Regions from separate parts of the Homo sapiens genome. Here region 1 is linked to region 2. The links come from fine-mapping of genetic effects on gene expression. Tissue or cell type: cerebellar hemisphere. Region 2 holds a variant in brackets; the other region holds the start of a gene. All regions are shown on one strand. Distances are between the middles of the regions. Region 1 holds the start of SYN3 (synapsin III). Region 2 overlaps FBXO7 (F-box protein 7).

What was found. PIP is the estimated chance that this variant, and not a neighbour inherited with it, causes the effect. A credible set is the group of variants that fine-mapping cannot tell apart.
Region 1: it holds the start of SYN3, and the variant in region 2 is the best candidate, but not a certain one, in a credible set for the expression of SYN3 in cerebellar hemisphere (GTEx, PIP 0.55).

Annotation. Positions count from the first base shown.
Region 1 is chr22:33,056,281-33,060,671 of GRCh38, forward strand. SYN3 (synapsin III) reads right to left here and starts at 2,101. Exons shown (of 14, transcript NM_003490.4): 1 at 2,012-2,101.
Region 2 is chr22:32,495,802-32,500,192 of GRCh38, forward strand. It overlaps FBXO7 (F-box protein 7), which reads left to right. Exons shown (of 9, transcript NM_012179.4): 9 at 2,343-3,028. The coding sequence ends at 2,729. Among named protein-coding and RNA genes, the nearest start is that of FBXO7, 23 kb to the left of the region's middle. RefSeq lists an enhancer at 3,204-3,373 and a cis regulatory region at 3,289. The variant T/G (reference allele first, on the strand shown) is at 2,237.

The DNA.
Region 1 (4,391 bases), 560 kb after region 2:
ACTTTTAAGATATCTACTATGCACCAGGCACAGTACAAAGCACTACTTCATTTGTGAGGTAGTGTAGTGGATACCGTGGGGAAATGCTCAACTCCCCCTCCAAGACCAAGACACTCATGACTTCCCCATGTCCAGCTGCCAGAGTGTTGGTTACCCCAGCTCCCAGGTGAGTCCCTAGTCAGGAACTGTCCTGCTGAAGGGACATCCTAGCTCCCTCCCTAGGACCAGCCTGCACCCACTGGCTGATCAACATTAAGCTTCAAAGGCCTCGTCTCTTTGTCTCATGGGAGGGATTGAGACCTCTCTTGCACTGCACCATAGATCAACATCTCCCTCTGCCCAGTTCTGCTTCCCTTATCTGCACAAAAATCTCAGAAGCGCCAAGTCTTTTTCCAGGGAACCCAAACCATGACAGGTGAGTACAATGATTTCCTTTTAAATCAGAAAAAGAAGGTTCATGAAGGTTGCTAATGTCCCCAAAGCCTATGGCTAAAGTGACTTTCTGGTCTGATTTCCCAGCGAGCCCTTGTTCTTTCTACTACACCAATCTACACACAGCCTTGCCTCCAATGGCTGAGACTGGATCTCTGTGAAACAGAAAGGGGAGCCCAGGCAGAGGGGAAGGGCACACAGAGGGCTTGAAGATGAGAAAAGAAGAGCAGAGGCACCCTTCAGAGGCCTGATGACAAGACTGAGGTCACAGGCTCCAGAAACAATATCAAAATGATGTGCAGGCTGCAGAAGCAAGCATTACACGGGCAGCATCTCTTTGCCTGAATCCATGTCCAGAAGCCAGGGAGCAGGGCTCCCGGGCAGAGGGGGCTCCCTTAAGCAGGGAAGAGTATTTGCAGCCAAGGACCAGAAAACAACTACAACTTACCAGCTTTCTGATGCTCCGGCCTCCATCCATTGTCCCCAGAGCTGCCAGAGGGACCTGATCACTGATCAGAATTCTTCCACGGCCCTCCTTCATTCCAGGATAAAATTCTAAATATTCTAAGGCTGCACTTTAAGGTCTGTGCAGGTTTTAGCTTCCTGCCATGTCGAGAGCTCATTTCCTACCTACAGCAAGACCCGGTCCTACTCCATTATCTGCTGTAGAATTATCTGATGTGCTAGGTCAGGACACCGGACCTTTTCAGTTTCTTTACCTTTACACAAGAAAACCCACCTGGAATTCCTGCTCCCTATCAACTCACAGTCCCAACACACTTTTCAGCCTGGCAAAACCTCCGACTTCCAGTCAATGCTCACCTCCTCTCTGAAACCTTCCTGGCTTCCTCACCGTCCTCTTCTCCATCTCGAGTCTTCCGCACTACCCTGCACTGCAATTGCTCCTCCTACTGTCCCTCTTAGCCCCAGAAGCTCCCCAAAGGCCATTCTTCATGCTGCTAGGGCTTGGCACAGTTCCTGGCACTCAGAAAAAGCCAAGTAAGTGCTGGATAGATACACGAGGTGCTGTATCCATAGCTATTCTCTGCTTCTAGCTTGGCCAGGAAACCACTCTGAAATTTCATCCTGCCCCCAGGATGACTGGAAATCGGAAATGGCATGACAAACCTGACCTCCCAAACCCAAGGCAACAGGTCATGAGGGGTCTGGGGACCTAAGGCAGGTCCTAGGAGCCGGCGCAGAGCAGAGGTCCGGCCGCTGCGGTTCCTGGTTTCCCGCAAGCTCTTCCCCGGGCCGGGCGCTGGGTGGAGGCAGTCTTAGGATCCACAGTCTTGCGCGCCCCCGGCTCCCGGGCCCGGCAGACGGCCCCCGCACGCCGATCTGTCTGTCCCAGGGACCGGCCCAGGGCCCCGGCAGCGGCAGCCTGGGGAGACACCGTGGTGCGCGGCTCCTTGCCTCCCTCCCTGCCCCTCCGTGCGCCCGCATCCCGCGGACACAGAGCCGGAGCTCCAGGGGACGCAGCCCGACGCGAGAACGCACCAGCAGCCCCCGCTCGAGGTGGGGTCTCCCGGCTGTCAGAAACCCCACAAAGTCTACTTTGCGGCGCCGCGCCGCTTACCGTGCGAGCCGCCAGGAACTCGGCGCCCGGTGGTGCCTCGGCGCGGCGCCCGCCAGTCGATCCGCTCCGGGTCCCGGGAGCTCAGCCTCTGCCCCTCAACGCGCGCGAGCGCCCCCGCCCGGCGGCCCGGCCTCCCCGCGCCGCGGCGCCCCATTGGCTCGGGCAACGAGGCCCCCGGACGGCCCCGCCCACCCGCGCCCACTCCCTCGCCCACGCCTCTCCCCAACGCCTTGCTGGGTTCACCTCTCCAGGCAGGGAAAGTTGCTTCTAGACTCTGAGCTCTCACCGGACTCAGGAGCCCAGTTAGCTAATAATTCTGGGTCCCAGGAGTGTCTAGACGCCCCTCGGGGAGTGCGAAGAATGCAGTGTCCTTGGAATCCACCTTTGGGAAAGTCAGCTGACCTCCCGGACCTCAGGTGGCACCTCAGAGAAACCAGGGCCCCTTGTCAGGAAATGTCCCAGGTTGTGGGCTAGGCCCTAGGGCCAGGATGCAACAGGGAACAAGACAAAGTCTATCGTCCTCGTGGACTTTGCATGGGGTGGAGGTGGGGGTAGGTTATATACAACAAACGAAAAAAACAAGAGAATGTCGGCTGGGTGCCTGTGGCTCACGCCTGTAATCCCAGCACTTTGGGAGGCCGAGGCAGGTGAATCACGAGGTCGGGAGTTCAAGACCAGCCTGGCCAAGATGATAAAACCCCGTCTCTACTAAAAATACAAAAATTAGCTGGGCATGGTGGCCCTCACCTGTAGTCCTAGCTACTCGGGAGGCTGAGGCAGAATTGCTTGGACCCGGGAGGTGGAAGTTACAGTAAGCCGAGTTAGAGCCACTGCACTCCAGCCTGGGCAACAGAGCTAGATGCCGTCTCCAAAAAAAAGAAAAGAAAAAGAAAGGGGTCTAGGACTGCTATACCTAGGGTGGTCTCCGGGCCGCTTGTGATATTGGATACTTGGAGGACAAAAACGATTCCAGGGCTGAAGCAAGAGCATTGCTGACAGAGGGGTCGGCCGATGCATGGTTCTGAAGCTGGAACTGGCCCCCAGGGTGGCTGAGTGAGGTGAGCAAGGGGAGAGTGGGTTACAGCCAGAGAGGTAGACTAGTGTGGAATCACCATCACCCAGAACCTTGTAGGCCACCGTGAGGGTCAGGGCTTTGTCATATCAATCTGGAGGGAACAATTCAGGCAAGAGATTATGGTGATGAAGACCAGGGTGGTGACAGCAAGATACGGAAAAGGTGGACCTCCTGCAATGTGTGTCAAAAGTAGCACAGGAAGGCTTGATGATGGATTAGGCTGGATTTAGGGGATGCTATGGTTTAAATATGTTCCCCAAAGTTCATATCTTGGAAACTTAATCCCCAATGCAACAGTGTTGAGAGGTGGGACCTTTAAGAGGTGATTCCATTAATGCCAGGAGTGGCCCTCTCCCCACCCCTCTGCTGCTCTCTTGTTCTGCCTTGTGCCATGGGGTGACTCAGCATGAAGGCCCTTACCAGATGCAGCCCCTCAATCTTGGACTTCCCAGCCTCCAGAGCCATGAGCTAAATAAATTGTTGTTCCTTATAAATTACCCAGTCTGTGATATTCTGTTATATTGGCACAAAATAGACTATGACAGGGGTTGACGTAAAGGGATGAAAGAAGAAAATCTCCTAGGTGTTTAGCTTGAGCCACTGTGGAGTAATGGTACTATTTCCAAGATCGGGAAGGTTCTTACCCAGCATCTTCCACTTACTGCATGAGCGTTAGTACATGATCTCAGTAACTAAGAGGGAGTGACTCTAACCTCAGTAACTAAGAGGGCATAAGACTAGCTGAAGGATCACAAACTTTAATACCGACGTGGCCGGGTAGTCATGTACTAAGTGAGGTTGGCAGGGTATAATAGAAAGGAGGGATGGGGCTTGTGACAGACTGAGGTATGCACACCTGCCTAAGGTGACAGTCACTGCTCAGCTCCAACTGATTTTTGCCATATGTGAATGGAGACCCACCCAGAGTTGCCAGATGTTCTGTTTTTTGTTTGTTTGTTTTTTATCGAGACTGAGTCCTGCTCTGTCACCCAGGCTAGAGTGCAGTGGTGCGATCTCAGCTCACCGCAACCTCCGCCTCCCTGGTTCAAGCAATTCTCCTGCCTCCCAAGCAGCTGGAATTACAGGCGCCCACCACCACGTCTGGCTAATTTGTGTATTTTTAGTAGAGACAGGGTTTCACCATGTTGGCCAGACTGGTCTCGAACTTCTAACCTCGTGATCTGCCCACCTTGGCCTCCCAAAGTGCTGGGATTATAGGCGTGAGCCACCACACCAGACCCTGATTTTTATTAAGAGGCCAGAAATTCAGATTATGTTAAATCTCTGGTTTTTTTAAATGCTGGT
Region 2 (4,391 bases):
GGAGTAGTCATCAGCTGTTCAGCTAGTTAAGATAGTACCTTATGAAAAGAATATATTGTATTGTTTCATAAGGTACTATTCTAATGTCTCTATAACAAAAACTGCAAGGTGGAGCAGCAAGTGCTGATGGAAAAGCTGCTGCAAGTTATCCAGAAGATGTAGCTAAAATCACTGATGAAGGTGGCTGCATTACACAACAGATTTTCAGTGTAGGTGAGACAGCTTTCTATTGGAAGAAGACGCCATCTATTTCATAGCTAGAGAGAAGTAGTCAGTGCCCAGCTTCAAAGGACAGGCTGACTCTTTTGTTAGGGGCTAATGCAGTTGGTGATTTTTGAAGCCAGTGCTTGTTGACCATTCTGAAAATCCTAGGGCCCTTAACAATTATGCTAAATCAGGCCGGGTGTGGTGGCTCACGCCTGTAATCCCAGCACTTTGGGAGGCCGAAGTGGGCGGATCACCTGAGGTCAGGAGTTGGAGACCATCTTGGCTAACACGGTGAAACCCTGTCTCTACTAAAAATACAAAAAATTAGCCGGATGTGGTGGTGTGGACCTGTAATCCCAGCTACTCAGGAGGCTGAGGCAGGAGAATCGCTTGAACCCAGGAGGTGGAGGTTGCAGTGAGCCAAGATCGCTCCATTGCACTCCAGCCCAGGAGACAGTGTGAGACTCTGTCTCAAAAAACAAACAAAAAAACAACAAAAAAAGGAATTATGCTAAATCTGTGCCTTTGCTCTGTAAATGGAACAACAAAGCCTGGATGACAGTACATCATTTATGGCATGGTTTACTGAATATTTCAAGTCCACTATTGAGGCCTACTGCTTATAAAAAATACTCCTTTTAAAATACTACTGCTCATTGACAATGCAGCCAGTCATCCCAGAGCTCTGATGGAGATGTTCAAGGAGATTAACGTTTTCATGTCAGCAAACAACTGCATTCTGAAGCTCATGGATCAAGGAATAATTTTGACTTTGAATCTTATTATTTAAGAAATACATTTTGTCAGGCCATAGTTGCCAGAGATGGTGATTCCTCTGATGGATCTGGACAAAGGAAATTGAAAACCTTTTGGAAAGGATTTAGCCTTCTAGATGCCATTAAGCATACTGAGGATTCATGGGGGAGATAAAAATATCAACAGGAGTTTGGAAGTTGATTCCAATCCTCGTGGATGACTTTGAGGGGTTCAAGACTTCAGTGGAGGAAGTGCAGATGTGATGGACCTAGCAAGAGAGCTAGAATTAGAAGTGGAGCCTGAAGATGGGACTGAATTGCTGCAGTCTCACAGTCAAACTTGAATGGATGAGAACTTGCTTCTTACGGATAAAGAGAGAAAGTGGTTTCTTTTTTTAAAAAAATGTCAATAGTTTTTGGGGTACAGGTGGTTTTTGGTTGCATAGATGAGTTCTTTAGTGGTGATTTCTGAGATTTTAGTGCACCCGTCACCCAAGCAGTGTACAACTGTACCCAATATGTAGTCTTTTAGCCGTCACCTCCCTCCCAGCCTTTCCCCCTAAGTCCCCAAAGTCCATTATGTCATTCTTATGCCTTTGCATCCTCATAGGTTAGGTCTCACAAGATTTGGTTTTCCATTCTAGAGTTACTTCACTTAAAATAATGGCCTCCAGCTGCATCCAAGTTGCTGCAAAAGACATTATTTCATTCCTTTTTATGGCTGAGTAGTATTCCATGGTGTATATATGCCACATTTTCTTTATCAGTGGTTTCTTGGAATGGAATCTATTCCTGGACAACAAAGGATTTCGAATATTACATAAATTTAGTTGACAAAACAGAAGCAAGGTTTGAGAAGGTTGACTCTGATTTTGAAAGTTTTACTGTGGGTAAAATGCCATCAAACAGCATCGCATGTACAGAGAAATCTTTCATGAAAGGAAGAGTGAGTCAATGTGACAAACTTCACTGTTGTATTATTTTAAGAAATTGCCACAGCCACTTCAGCCTTTAGCAACCAGCACCCTGATCTGTCAGCAGCAACGAACATGGAGGCAAGACCCTCTATTAGCAAAAAGATTGCAACTTGCTAAAGGCTCAGGTGATTGTTAGCATATTTTTAAATTAAGGTATGTACATTGTCTTTTTAGATACAATGCTATTGCACACTTACTATAGTGTAAACATAGCATAGCATTTATATACACTGGGAAACCAAAAAAATTTGTGTGACTTGGTTTATTGCATTGGTTTGGGACTAAATCCACAATATG[T/G]CTGAGGTGTGCCTATAGATCTTTACTATGAAAGCAAATTAGAACTAAAGGGAAACATCCAGATCACTTACCTTATCTTGTTCTTTTATTTTTCTTTTTTCTACAGCTGTACAGGAAGAGGCACATACAAAGAAAAGAATCCCCGAAAGGGCGGTTTGTGATGCTCCTGCCATCGTCAACTCACACCATTCCATTCTATCCCAACCCCTTGCACCCTAGGCCATTTCCTAGCTCCCGCCTTCCTCCAGGAATTATCGGGGGTGAATATGACCAAAGACCAACACTTCCCTATGTTGGAGACCCAATCAGTTCACTCATTCCTGGTCCTGGGGAGACGCCCAGCCAGTTTCCTCCACTGAGACCACGCTTTGATCCAGTTGGCCCACTTCCAGGACCTAACCCCATCTTGCCAGGGCGAGGCGGCCCCAATGACAGATTTCCCTTTAGACCCAGCAGGGGTCGGCCAACTGATGGCCGGCTGTCATTCATGTGATTGATTTGTAATTTCATTTCTGGAGCTCCATTTGTTTTTGTTTCTAAACTACAGATGTCAACTCCTTGGGGTGCTGATCTCGAGTGTTATTTTCTGATTGTGGTGTTGAGAGTTGCACTCCCAGAAACCTTTTAAGAGATACATTTATAGCCCTAGGGGTGGTATGACCCAAAGGTTCCTCTGTGACAAGGTTGGCCTTGGGAATAGTTGGCTGCCAATCTCCCTGCTCTTGGTTCTCCTCTAGATTGAAGTTTGTTTTCTGATGCTGTTCTTACCAGATTAAAAAAAAGTGTAAATTACATGGTGGTCTTGACTTTTATTACAGAAAGATATGTAGTAAATATTCAGAACAGATACACAATGTTACTTGGACATTTCAGAATTATCAGAGAACATAGCATAGGCAGATAATTTTTGTAAGGGTTTTCTGTTTGTTTGTTTTTTTTTTTTTTAGCAGCGCTCTGTCTTCTAATAAAGGCCTGATTTATGAAATGAATGAAAACAGAGCTAGTTTGGTTGAACTGGACTTGGGGTGGGTGCTTTGGCTACACACCTACTCAAATCCACCTCTTCTCTCGACTTCTCTCTCTCTGCAGCTCTTTCTTGGGTTCTGTGGTGGAACTTTCTGGGCTGTGAAGCAATGCTGTTGAAAGGCCATTTGGTATTAGGGACTCCTGTTTGTGGCTCCTGGGATGAGGTGGTTATGATTTTGTTTTCCTTGTGTTTTGAACACTTAGCCCCTAATTTGTAACTTAAGTAGAAGATACCTTTTTAAAAAGTTTTACTGCTTTGAGTGCTAATCAGGTACTTGTTCTTCAAAGATAGCCTTTTATTTGAAGAACATTTTGCTTTTCAGACTTAAATACACAAAATTCAAGATTTATTTTTTCTACAAGAAAAAGGCCAAACACAAATGACTTACACAAACAACTGTAGAAACATGCTATAGTGACAATCTGATTCACAACATAGGAATAAAACACTACTAGCATCTACAGAAAATAGGAATATTGCCAATGTCTTCCTGCTTTTTTAAAAATTCTGTTTTGCATATAAGGAAATGGCTTGGAATGTTATGTGCTGCAAGAATATTTTGAGTCCTACATACAAGTGAATTTTTTTTTTTGCTACACATGTATATTGAGGTTTTTTTTTTTTATCACAGTGAAGAAAATGCAGTGAATAATACGATTTTCTTGAGGCCTGTTACTTTTAGTAGCTTAATGTGTAGTAAAGAATTGGAGTTGTTGACATTTCTTTCTGTGGTATTTTGTAATTTCTGAGCTACAGGATAGCCTTTTAAAAATGTGTTCACTAGATGCCATATGGCTTTAATTGGGTCTAACAAGGTCCTCCTGAAGCTTTGTTGGGTCCATATACTAGTTCTCTGATACATTTCTTTGTGGCTTTGCAATGTTATGTTGCACTATGCAGGGGATGTGTGTATGTGTGTAGTGGGCGTGGGAGGACATGGTGACGACCAGAAGCACCAAATACTATAAAACAACAAGTGTTCAGAATGCAGGCTTTTTTGAGTGGCCCTTGAGAACTCCATGGATGGTGCTGGTGTCCTGTGGATACTGGTGCTGCTTTCCATCCTCACCTCTGACTAACTTGCAGACATTACAGATCTCACTTAGTTTAGGATATCAGCAGTGGCCT